Regions from separate parts of the Homo sapiens genome. Here all the other regions are linked to region 3. Evidence: fine-mapped expression QTL. A gene starts in region 3. Each other region holds a variant in brackets. All regions are shown on one strand. Distances are from middle to middle. Region 1 overlaps GPR84-AS1 (GPR84, ZNF385A, ITGA5 and GTSF1 antisense RNA 1). Region 2 overlaps GPR84-AS1 (GPR84, ZNF385A, ITGA5 and GTSF1 antisense RNA 1). Region 3 holds the start of GTSF1 (gametocyte specific factor 1).

What was found. PIP is the estimated chance that this variant, and not a neighbour inherited with it, causes the effect.
Region 1: its variant is the best candidate, but not a certain one, in a credible set for the expression of GTSF1 in left ventricle (GTEx, PIP 0.57).
Region 2: its variant is the best candidate, but not a certain one, in a credible set for the expression of GTSF1 in T cells (GENCORD, PIP 0.56).

What each region holds. Positions count from the first base shown.
Region 1 is chr12:54,432,299-54,436,528 of GRCh38, reverse strand. The region is part of intron 3 of GPR84-AS1 (GPR84, ZNF385A, ITGA5 and GTSF1 antisense RNA 1); the gene reads right to left. Among named protein-coding and RNA genes, the nearest start is that of ITGA5, 15 kb to the right of the region's middle. The variant A/G (reference allele first, on the strand shown) is at 2,046.
Region 2 is chr12:54,446,734-54,450,963 of GRCh38, reverse strand. The region is part of intron 3 of GPR84-AS1 (GPR84, ZNF385A, ITGA5 and GTSF1 antisense RNA 1); the gene reads right to left. Among named protein-coding and RNA genes, the nearest start is that of GTSF1, 25 kb to the left of the region's middle. RefSeq lists a silencer at 2,323-2,523. The variant G/AG (reference allele first, on the strand shown) is at 1,698.
Region 3 is chr12:54,472,067-54,476,296 of GRCh38, reverse strand. It overlaps GTSF1 (gametocyte specific factor 1), which reads left to right and starts at 2,695. Exons shown (of 9, transcript NM_144594.3): 1 at 2,695-2,751. RefSeq lists enhancers at 2,367-2,426, 2,092-2,618.

The DNA.
Region 1 (4,230 bases), 40 kb after region 3:
AATTTCATAGTTTTTCACAAAATGCCATTGAATAAGTGACTTCAGTAAACGCTATTTTCATTGAAACTTGGTTTTTTTTTTTGCACTCCTTGAAAACATTCTTCAGAGTAGGCTAAGGGATTTAATGAATTATATGGTTATCTTAATTTTCATTCAAAGGATGTTAGCCATGCTGCTATAACAAAGAAACCCACAAATATAGTGACCCTCTTACTTCAAATAAAGTAATAGTACAGAGATATATGGAGCAGATGGTCTTTGGTAGAAAAGGCTTGCATCTCTGGGTCCATGGTGGCTGCTTAATGTGTCACCATGTCATAGCAAGCAGAAGGATGAAAGAGTGAGAGAGCAACTACTTTTCCTCTTTAAAGACATGACCCAGAAGTTACACACATTGCTTCACTCACATTCCATTGACCAGAACGTAGTTATGGGACCACCTGTAATTGCAAGACAGACTGGACAGTGTAGTATCTAGCTGGCAGCCATGCACCCTGCTAAGATTTAGTGTGTGGATAGCAGGGTAGCAGAGTCATATTATTAAAAGGAAGAAGAGACAGGATGATGAGAATGAGTGGTCTCTGCCACACTTATAAAATATAATTTGTGGGGACAGGTCAGGTGACAAAAGTTAACAAGTAATTGGACCACATCTCTGGATCCAATTCAATAATTAGATGCAAATTAAAAACATGATAGTAAGAAACGCTATCTTGCTAGAAGACTACGTTGTAAAAAACAATGTCACACAATTCAGAAATTAGTTTTGTAATGTTGCTGTGTTATGTTTACCATTGCTTTAAAAACAGGTTCAGTTTATTCAAATATTTGTTTAGCCAGGCAACGTACTTGGCAGTGGAAAAACAGAAGTAAACAAGATCCTTACCTCACAGAACTTAGTCTAAAAGGAGAGACAAACAGGAAAATACAATATAGTGGGGTAGATGCTGTGACTAGTGAAATCAGGAGTACTGGGTGGGGAATTAATGAATGCTTCTTGGAGGAATCAGTGTTTGTGCTGAGACTTGATCTATAAAATACATTCCATTCAATCCCAGCTACCCGGGAGGCTAAGGCACGAGAAACACTTGAAACCCAGGAGGCAGAGGTTGCAGTGAGCCAAGATCACGCCACTGCACTCCAGCCTGGGCGACAGAGTGAGACTCCATCTCAAAAAAACAAAACAAAAAACAACATTACAGAGAGCACATCAGAGTTTAAATAGATTTCAGATTTATCAACAGACAGAATGAGGCTTTAATATTTATAACCAAGTACTGTAACCATACATATAGTATATTAGTTTAATTATCCCAACAAATCTATGAGAAAGATATTACTGCCATTTTACAGGTGAAGATATTGAGACCCAAGGAGGTTAAGTAACTTGCCAAGGTTACATATCTGTTAAGTAAGGGAGGCAACTTTCAAACTCAAGTCTTTTCAGATGACTTCCCTGTATAAAATAAAAGCACATTAACAAAAAGCAAACATTATCATTAAAAATTCTGGCCAGGCGCAGTGGCTCACGCCTGTAATCCCAGCACTTTGCGAGGCTGAGCCAGGCAGATCACAAGGTCAGGAGTTCGAGACCAGCCTGACCAACATGGTGAAACCCCGTCTCTACTAAAAATACAAAAATTAGCTGGGGGTGGTGGCGCGTGCCTATAATCCCAGCTACTCAAGAGGCTGAGGCAGGAGAATCATTGAACCCAGGTGGCGGACATTGCAGTGAGCCAAGATCGTGTCATTGCACTCCAGCCTGGACAACAGAGCGAGACTCAGTCTAAAAAAAAAAAAAAAAAATTCTATGGAACATGCTTTCATAAAATATTTAGAGTTGCTTCTATCATAGGTGCATTCAAATGTATTCAATTTCTAAATTATACAAGGACTTTATTAATACACTGGATAATTAAGTGCTAGACCATGTACTCCAGACTATAAGCCTAGGACTTCAGAATAGTGGCACATTGCTGAGATTTAGAATGAGCTGGGGAAGTCCAGGCTCAGTGGCTCACACCTGTAATCCCAGCACTTTCGGC[A/G]GCCGAGGCAGGCAGATCACTTGAGGTCAGGAGTTCAAGACCAGCCTGGCCAACATGGTAAAACCCCGTCTCTACTAAAAATATAAAAATTAGCCAGGCATGGTGGTTGGCACCTGTAATCCCAGCTATTCAGGGGGCTGAGGCAAGAGATTCACTTTAACCTAGGAGGCAGAGGTTGCAGTGAGCCGAGATCACGCCACTGCACTCCAGCCTGGGTAACAGAGCAAGACTTCATCTCAAATAAATAAATAAATGAATAAATAAATATTTTAAAATAAAATAAAGAGGCCAGGCGCAGTAGCTCACACCTGTGATCCCAGTACTTTGGGAGGCCGAGGCAGGCGGATCATGAGGTCAGGAGATCGAGACCAGCCTGGCTAACACGGTGAAACCCCGTCTCTATTAAAAATACAAAAAAATTAGCCGGGCGTGGTGGTGGGCGCCTGTAATCCCAGCTACTCGGGAGGCTGAGGCAGGAGAATGGCGTGAACCCGGGAAGCGGAGCTTGCAGTGAGCCGAGATGGCGCCACTGCACTCGGGCCTGGGCAGCAGAGCGAGACTCTGTCTCAAAAAAAAAATGAATAAATAAAATAAAATAAAATAAAGAATGAGATGGGGAAGCTTATGCAGGGCTTGGATGGGCCTTGATGACCAGTACAGAGGACAGTGCATTCCAGACACTGGAATCACAGGAGCAAAGCTGAAGACAAAATGGGCACATTAGTGAGACAATACTGAGACACTGAGACCCAAATGACTAAAGCAGAAGGTGTATTAGAAAGAAGCTTTCTGGTTCTCCCAGGTACAGGAGAAGGGAGAGATTGGAGACCTCAGGGTCATTTTACCCCCATTTAAGTGGCCATGGTAGCTGTGACCTACCCCCACTTTTCTAGGAAAAAATATATTCCAGCATTCCCAAGATCTTCTATCTTCATTGTAATCATTTTGTCACCTTGAATATCAAAAGACATATTATTTTCCTAATGCTAGTCCGGGGCTGTACCAATTGACAGACACAATCTTTGCTTCATTCAAGTTTCCAGTCTAATAGGATACAAACAGACAATTCAGAGAACAAAATGGGGCAAACTTAGCCCAAAATAAGAGCATCATGATTCCCTTAAGATGTCAAAGTGCTTACAGCTGTACCATGTAGGAGGCCATAACAAATGCTACATTTAAGAGGACACTAGGCATGGGTGGGGTGGTCCCAGGCTTGATAAGGTTACTTAAGCCCCCAAATCCTTGTGGTCAACCCGAACAGTCACCTGGAAAAGGGCTGATGAACAGGATACCTTTCCTCCAAAGGAATCCTGCCTCTCCTATATGCCCCGAAATGAGCATTGAGTGGGAAGCTAACCAGAGGGAAAAATAGGAGCTGCTGTTAGGGTCAGACAGGATCCAGCAGCCTGCAGCCTGGACCCAAGCGTGCGGAAAAGGCCATTGTCTGAGTGGCTTTCTGGATTTCCTGCCCTCAAACACCTACCCCGCCCAACATGCACACTCAATCTCTTGCCTCCTGCTCTGCCATCACTGTGATTAGCAGGCACTGCCCACCAAGAGGACAACAGACCACTGAGGTTCTCCTAAAGTGAGAAGGGAAATCACCCAGACCCATCCCCAGTGGGGAAAGGCAAAAAGATGACACAGAACAGGGCTTTAAGATTACTAGAGAAAAGTGTTTCCAGATCTTAATGAAGATCCAGGATCCTCCTTATCTCTCAACCCGCACTCATTTCTCCTAGGTCTACTCATCCAGGAGACGTAGAGTTTTCTGGCACAAGTGAGCAACAGCTGGATGGGGGTGGGGGGTGTGTCTATGTAGGTGTCTGTGCCTCCAGGCACGTCCCAGTGGTTTTTATGTGTGGGAGAGGAGAATTCAGCAAACAGGGTGTGGTTGTGGGTGTGTCTCACGTGGGATGAGGTATCTACAGAGCAGTTCTGTTGAGATCCTTGGGCTCCCTGCTCTACCAGCCCTGGCATTGAGTCCATTTCATGACCCTGATGAGACCAGATTCCCAGCTGATGACGCCCATTCCCAATCACCAGCTTCCAGCTCTTTGGCCCCTCCCCCATCCACACGCTTACTCCTCTGGCAGGCTAGCTGGGCTTTTGGCTGGGAACTGAGCTCAAAGCGGAAACAGGCAGTTGGAAGGTGTGATTTATGTCTCTGACTTCACCCCAG
Region 2 (4,230 bases), 25 kb after region 3:
GGCTAACACGGTGAAACCCCGTCTCTACTAAAAATACAAAAAATTAGCCGGGCGTGGTGGTGGGTGCCTGTAGTCCCAGCTACTCAGGAGGCTGAGGCAGGGAATGGCGTGAACCCGGGAGGCAGAGCTTGCAGTGAGCTGAGATCACACCACTGCACTCCAGCCTGGGCGACAGAGCCAGACTCCATCTCAAAAAAAAAAAAAAAAAAAAACTGAAAGGGAGCTTAGAGAGTACCTGATCCAAAGCTTCATCTTACACATGAAGAAACAGGCCCTATACAAGTGTGAAACATGACAGTTTTTTAAAAGGAAATAGAACGATAAACACAAAGTTCAATATAGTGGTAATCCCTAGGGAAGAGGCCAGGATGAGGGGACCAGGAAGAAACACAGGATATTAGTAGTAGTCTGTTGGTAAGTTGGATGGTGAGTTTGTTGGTGTTTATTATGCTTCACAAGTGTGTATTAAATACTATATAATTTTAAAACACTTAAGAATAATTGTTAAAAGAGTTGCAAAGTTCTTACTATAGGCAAGTTACTGTTCTTACTTAGCATTTTATGTATTTTAACCCAGGAGGGAAAAAAAAACAGGCCCTGAAAATTTGATCCTTGCACAGCTTGTTAGTAGTGAGCTATGACCATAACCTGGGACTTCAGATTTCTAATTTACTGCTTTTATACGATTCTTCCCTAAATATTGATTCTACACTCAACTTCTCATTCTCTCAGGCTATGAGTTTCCTCCTGAACTCATTTCCACATCTGCCAGTTTAGACTCCATGATCCAGTACTTCAGTAGCCTAAACCAGCATCCTTAACCCCCGCTATTGTTCTGTCTCTGCTTTACCAATTCCCAAGTTGAGAGAAGCCCACCATCTTTTACTCTATTCCTGCTAGGTTATCAAGCATAGTTACAGAAAATCATATAACTATGCCACCTAACTCCACTGCAGATACAGATTTCTAAACTCGGGCACTCATTCCTGTTTGACTTTCAGATTTACCTGGTGGCCGTTGCAGCCCTTTTACTATTCTCAACTTCGTAGTCCCTACTTTCCATCCTCCACTATCAGGAGATGACATTGACTTTACCTCCAACTTTTTTGAACTCCTGGGCTCAAGCCATCCTCCCAAGTAGCTAGAGCTACAGGTGTGTGCCACCATACTCAGCTACTTTTTAAAAAGAATTTTTAGAGATGTGGTCTTAGTATATTGCCCAGGCTAGTCTCAAACTCCTGACCTCAAATGATCCTCAACCTCAGCCTCCCAAAGTACTGGGATTACAGGCATGAGCCACCACACCTGGTCTTGATTTCCTTGAGAAGGTACTGGTCATTGACCTTAACTTACTCTTTAACTCTTATAGCACCTCTTTTTCCTTTATCTCAGTATACTTCTGGCTGGGCACGGTTGCTCACGACTGTAATCCTAGCACTTTGGGAGGCCAAGGCAGGCGGATCACTTGAGGTCAGGAGTTCGAGACCAGCCTGGCCAACATAGTGAGACCCCCATCTCTACTAAAAATACAAAAAATTAGCTAGGCGTGGTGGTGCATGCCTGTAATCCCAGCTATTTGGGAGGTTGAGGCAGGAGAATCGCTTGAACCTGGAAGGCAGAGGTTGCAGTGAGCCAAGATGGTGCCACTGCACTGCAGCCTGGGCAACAGAGCAAGACTGTCTCAAAAAAAAAAAAAA[G/AG]TATACTTCCTCTACAAGGCTAACTTTGTCTGTGAACTTTGTACTGCATCACATTGTATTATCTATTGCTACATAACCAATTTCCCCAAAACATAGTGTATTAAAACAATAATAAACATTACTCTCATAATGTCTGTGGATAAGGAATTTGGGAGTTACTTAGCTGAGTAATCCTGGTTTGGGGTCTTTCATGTAGATGCAGTCAAGAGTCAGCCAGGGCTGGGCACAGTGGCTCACACCTGTAATCGCGCATCCCAGCACTTTGGGAGGCCAAAGTGGGCAGATCACTTGAGGTCAGGAGTTTGAGACTAGCCTGGCCAACATGGTGAGACCCTGTCTCTACTAAAAATACAAAAACTGGCCAGGGATAGTGGCATGCACCTGTAATCCCAGCCACTTGGGAGGCTGAGGCAGAAGAATTGCTTGAACCCAGGAGGTGGAGGTTGCAGTGAGCTGAGATCGTACCACTGCACTCCAGCCTGGGCGACAGAGCGAGACTCTGTCTAAAAAAAAACAGAAAGAGTCAGCCAGGGCTGCCATTTCTGAAGACTTGACTGAGGTGGGACGATTTGCTTCTTAAGTGGCTCACTTACATGCCTGGCAATTCAAGGCCTCAGTTGCTCCCCATGCGGGACTCTACAAAGCCTGCGAGTATCCTTACAACATGTCAACTGACTTCCCCCATGGTGGGCAATTTAAGAGCAAGGTGGAAGCTGTAAATTATTTTATGACCTAACTTCAGAAGTCACGCTACATCATTTCACAATATGCTTTTGGTTACACTGGTGAGCCCTTTTCATTGTGGGAGGGGACTTTACAGGAACATGAATGCCAGGAGGCAAGAATCAATGGGGGGCTGTCTTGAAGGCAGTCTACTACACTGAGCTTCTCCTATCCTCCAATATCTTCCATAAGTCAATTCCTCTCTCCTCTTTAGCTTTTTTTTCTTTGAGATAGGGCCACACTCTGTCACCCAGGCTGGAGTGTAGGGGTGCTATCATACTTCATTGCAACCTCAAACTCCTGGGCTCAAGCAATCTTCCCACCTTCCATGACTGGTCTTTCTTTCTTTTTTTTTTTTCTTTTTTTTTTTTGGTAGAGATGGGATCTCACTATGTTGCCCAGGCTGGTCTCAAACTCCTGGCCTCACGTGATCCTCCCATCTCAGCCTCCCAGAGTGTTGGGATTACAGGTGTGAGCCACCATACCCAACCCTCTTCTCTTTAAATTAACTCTACTCTTTCCTTAACTCTTTCAGCTATGAAAATGTTTATGTTTATTTTTTAAAATATATACCCTGTTCTCCATATTAATCAGGGTTTGGTTGCAGAGAACAGAATCGATTCTAGCTAGATTAAGCAGTAAAGGACTTATTACTAGGGCATCAAATGGATGGATCACAGAATTCTGGGGAAGGCTGAAGAAACAAACTCTAGACTGGACTTCCAGAAATGATTCCTAAAGACTGCTAAGGGAGGCCAGTCGTGGTGGCTCACACCTGTAATACCAGCACTTTGGGAGGCCAAGGTGGGCAAATTGCTTGAGCCCAGGAGTTGGAGACCAACCTGGGCAACATAGTGAAACCCTGTCTCCACTAAAAATACAAAAATTAGCTGGGGTATGGTGGCATGCGCCTGCAGTCCCAGCTACTCAAGAGGCTGAAATGGAAGGATTGCCTGAGCTCAGGAAACGGAGGTTTCAGTAAACCGAGATCTTACTACTGCACTCCAGCCTGGGTGAGAGAGTGAGATCCTGCCTCAAAAAAGAAACTGCTAATCAGGCCGGGCACGGTGGCTCACACCTGTAATCCCAGCACTTTGGGAGGCCGAGGCAAGTGGATCACCTGAGGTCAGGAGTTCAAGACCAGCCTGACCAACACGGTGAAGCCCCGTCTCTACGAAAAATACACAAAAATTATCCAGGCGTGGTGGTGGGTGCCTGTAATCCCAGCTACTCAGGAGGCTGAGACATGAGAATTGCTTGAACCCAGGAGGTAGAGGTTGCAGTGAGCTGCACTCCAGCCTGGACAACAGAGTGAAACTCCGTCTCAAAAAAAAAAAAAAGACTGCTAAAGGAGCTGCTACCGCTTCTACTATATTTAGGAAGCTTCTACTACATTCAAGAAGCTTCTACAATAGTTAGGAAGCTGCCATTGCAGCTGCTAGTCCAAGAAGTAACCACCTCTGCCACTGTCAGCATCCCTAAATGGATGCCCTGCACCCCGTCTTAACCCCTGCTGGCTTCAGAATCCAAGTGAAACACTAGTGCATCTGATTAGCAGAACTTAATTCAGAAGTGATTTAAGATAGCTAGCTAGAAGAGAATGTGGGAAATTTAGTCTTTAGCTTTCCAGCTTCTGCACACTAGAAGAGTGTGCATTCTGACCAAACAAATACATAAAATCCTTCACACTCCCACTGAAGCAATTACGACTTCGGTGCCAAGTTTTTTGAAAGAGTTGTCTATACCTGGTCTTAAATTCCCACTTACTCCTTAATCCATTGCAATCTGGCCACTCTATTACCATCATCAC
Region 3 (4,230 bases):
AGAACAGATGTGTGGTGCATTTTTATTTCAAAATCACCATTGAAAAACAGGTTTGATTTTTGCTTGTTTGAAAGTTGGTTGGCTTATTCACAGGTGCTAAATGAAACAGCATTATCAGTTGAGGATCCTGTCATTCTGACAAGGCATTACTACTGAATGCAGTGAAGCCTGACTTTGGATTCTGGTTTGGTACCCATTCCCCTATCCTCCCAAGCCCTTAGCTCTTTCTTCCTCAGAAATTTCAATCTGCAGGTATCTGAATAAAATGTATTTATGGGTCACAGTAGCACTGTCAACAATTTCACCAGATTACTGCAATGTAAAGCCTGAAAAAATATTTCATTTCAAATCACACTGGCCCCAACAATCTGCATTAATGATACTGTGATAAAATCAGAGGTTTAGGATTTCATGAAAATTGTTTTAAAATATTTCCTAACAATCTAAAACTGATTTGCCAAAACAACTTTTTCCAAAATGATTAGTGCTAAGCTTGCAATGAAGCTTTCCTTCTTAGCAATTATCTTTCGCAAACCACTTTAACAGTTTGCTCCTCCTTCAAATGAATCATCCAGGCCATGGGTGAAAGAATGGCTTTTTTGATTTCAAAACAATGCCTAGGTCAGTTGTTCTCAGCCCTGGCTACACATTAAATTCATCTGGGTAGATTTTTAAAAATAACTATGCCTGGCTCTTTCACATTAATTGGTGTGGGATGGGAAGTTGGCATGGTATGTCTTAAAAGCTCCCCTGATGATTCTAAGGTGTAGACAAGATTAAGAACCACTAGCCTACAATGGCTTGAGCCTGGCTTCCATCAACACTTGGTTCTTTTTAGTGTCTTAATCTGAACTGATGGCTGTGGAGCAAACTCTCTTCTAGTAGGAAAAAAAGGTCGGGGGGAGGGGGTGCGGAGGGAGTAACAACAATAAACGCTCACAAATTAATCATGTAAAACGAAAACATCCCTTGCCCGGCGCAGTGGATCACACCTGTAATCTCAGCACTTTGGGAGGCCGAGGCAGGCAGATCACCTGAGGTCAGGAGTTTGAGACCAGCCTGGCCAACATGGTGAAACCCCCGTCTCTACTTAAAAAAAAAAAAAAAAAAGCTGGGTGTGGTAGTGCCTGCCTGTAGTTCCAGCTTCTCAGGAGGCTGAGGCAGGAGAATCACTTGAACCCAGGAGGCGGAGGTTGCAGTGAGCCGAGATCATGCCACTGCTCTCCTGCATGGGCGACAGAGCGAGACTCCATCTCAAAAAAAAAAAAGAAGAAAAAGAAAATGCCCCACTGATCCTTTTTACTAAAGCTACATTCAGTTTTTGTCAGGGTAGTCCTCTCAAGTCCTATTTGGGCTCTACACCACTGAAATGCTGTAGAAATCCCAATATTTCACTGCCCAGACTAATCACCCAGACTGCCTCCTACATCTTGAACAGCACAGAATGTTTTGTCATATCTTTTACTTCTTGGTTTTGAAAAATATTACCACCAGATCTACTTGTAGTGTCAACACCTTCCTTTTTTTGTCTAACCTTCAAAGGCTACAAGTCCCTTTTCTCTATAATGCCTTCCCAGGTCATTTCAGGCCCCATTAATTTTTTTCCTTACAGGAATTTACAGTCTCTACCACTTTTTTTGGCATTTTTTGTACTGCTATTAAACCTTTCATCCACTTTGGGAGTCGTTTTTCTAAGCACTCTGGGGACAAGAACTGCAGCTTACACTTTTTTTCCCCAGAACAAAGCCTCACACTACGTTTGGTTTTCCCTTAACAAGTTGTAACCTTCCGGCCTTCTTGTCCTCTCCAACTCTTCATTGAGCTCTCTCCCCAACTCTAAAACTCGCTTTCATCAGGCAGCAACAACCATCATCCTACCAAGCATTCTCAGATAGTTAGTGCCTTTTGAATTTTGGGATTTTACAACACATTCTAAACAAGAACAGCCAGACACAAAATTCCTGTCCTTGGTGATTGTTTTGTGGCTGCACTGCGTATCTCCTTTATAATTCCTCTTCTCTTCCCTCAAAATCTAAATTACCTTTCTATCTAGACAACTTCCACAAACAAGGCTTCTTTCTAGGCAGCTCCCCACCTCTAACCAGTTCCATCAGTCCCATTCCCTCAGGCGCCATTTTTTTTTTTTTTTTTTTTTTTTTCCTGAGACGGAGTCTCACTCTGCCGCCCAGGCTGGAGTGCAGTGGTGCAATCTCGGCTCACTGCAGCCTCCGCCTCCCGGGTTCAAGCAATTCTCCTGCCTCAGCCTCCCAAGTAGCTGGGATTACAGGCGCCCGCCACCACACCCAGCTAATTTTTGTATTTTTAGTAGAGACGAGGTTTCACCATGTTGGCCAGGCTGGTCTTGAACTCCTGAGGTAATCGCAGGTGCCCATTTCTAAGTGCTCATCTGCCTTTTCTAAGATGGCCGCCACAAAACCCAGGGAAAGAAATGCGAGTTCTACCCTCTCAAGGCCACTGTTGTTCTGGGGGCCAGGGGAGGATGGCCCCAAAGATGGGGTGCCCAAGGAGGAGATCCTCGTGGGAAAGGGTCATCAGGGAGCTGACCCTAGGGGCTCACAGGTGAACTCCACAGCTGATCCACCCTGCCCCACACTCAGCCAGAACCGAGACTCCCAGTCACAGGAAGTGCCGGCCCCTCGCCCCACCTCCCAACGTTAGGCGCCGGAAGTGGCCGTTGCTGGGGCTTGCGTGGGAGGAAGGTGACTGTGAGGAAGGTGTGTGTCCACCGAGGTAAGGAAAGGCACCCCGGGGCGCCTCTAAGCAATTCCTATTTTGCGTACCGGGATACCTTCACCTTCTAATATCCTCATTTCGCTTTTCTGCTGGTAGCCTTCAGCCTTGTGGGCTCTCAATGCAGCTATTTTGGCTACCAACCTGTTTCGCTGCATTGCCCACTCGAGGGCCTCCTTGGCGCCTTTTCTATGTTTTTTTTAAGTTAACCACCTCCCCCACTTTCTCTTATTTAGTCTCATTGATTAAGTCTACTGTGATTTTGTTGTTGTTGTTGTTGTTTAAAGGAAGAAAAATGATTCTTTTACTAAGGCCGGAATTCTGTTAAGCGTTTAACCAGTAGCCGCCGACTACATCCATACCCTAAACTTGATTGCTTCCGGCGTAGCTTGTCTATTTCACCGTGATCTAGTAGTAGGGAAAAGGTAAAGAATCCCGTTAACAGTTTGATGCGGAAGATACTTAAAACAGACACGGCTAAGTGATGGTACTGTGAATTCCAGTGCCCCTAGTGTACTGTAATTCGTCCTTTTGTCCGGGAAGAATAGGTTGGCTTCCTACAAGCTGCTGAATCTGGTGCTCATCACTTAAAATCAAGAAACATACTTGGTTCTTCCTTCCAAAACTCTTATTTTTAATGAAAAAGTATGAAGTAACTATGTATAAGTGAAATATATACAAAAAGACGGTGGGGATTTCTTGATCCAAACATAAATATGAAAAATATTTTTAAGACAAATTCACTAATGATTGTCATTAACAAATGGGCTCAGTAGCAAAAAAACTAGAGTTCTAGCTGATCACTTGTATTTCCTATCATAGGTTCTAACGCTGCTTATGTCACAGAATGGGGGGAGGGGTGGTGAGGAGTGTAGAATTGTGTGAGGGGCCAAAGGAGAGCATGCTCTAGAGACAGACAATTTTCAGAAGTTTCGTATGGGGATGGTTTTATATAAATTCAGGTTTTTCCCACAATAATAAATGTATTTAGTCTCAGTGCTCAATAGAAGAGATTTCTAATAGAAAAGGATTCAAACTGTGAAACCATTTCTCTTTTAATGTTTCACATTCCTGTTACAGATTTGTTCTCTTGTGACTCTGTTATCCATAATATGGACAGTTCTTGAGTCCTAACATTGAGAGGTTTTCCCTTAGTGCATAGAGGGAATGAGTATTAATTGGAGAAGCTTAAAGTATTGCCACTTTAGCACTGAAGATTGGGATGAGAGGAGGTGAAACCTCACTAGAAAAAGGGACAATGTTAGTGTGGCCCTTCCTGATCATGTTTAAGAAAAGTCATGAAAATGGTGAACTAGTGTTTCCAAGCATATTGGAAGGGTTGAGTGTATACTGTCTGTCAAAGACTTCCAGCATTTCCAGGTCCTAGAGAGGAACAAGACTGGTAACCTGCCTATCTGTATTTTTAAGAACCCAGGAGGAAAGCTTTATAATAGAACATTATTTCTGTGTTTATGTATA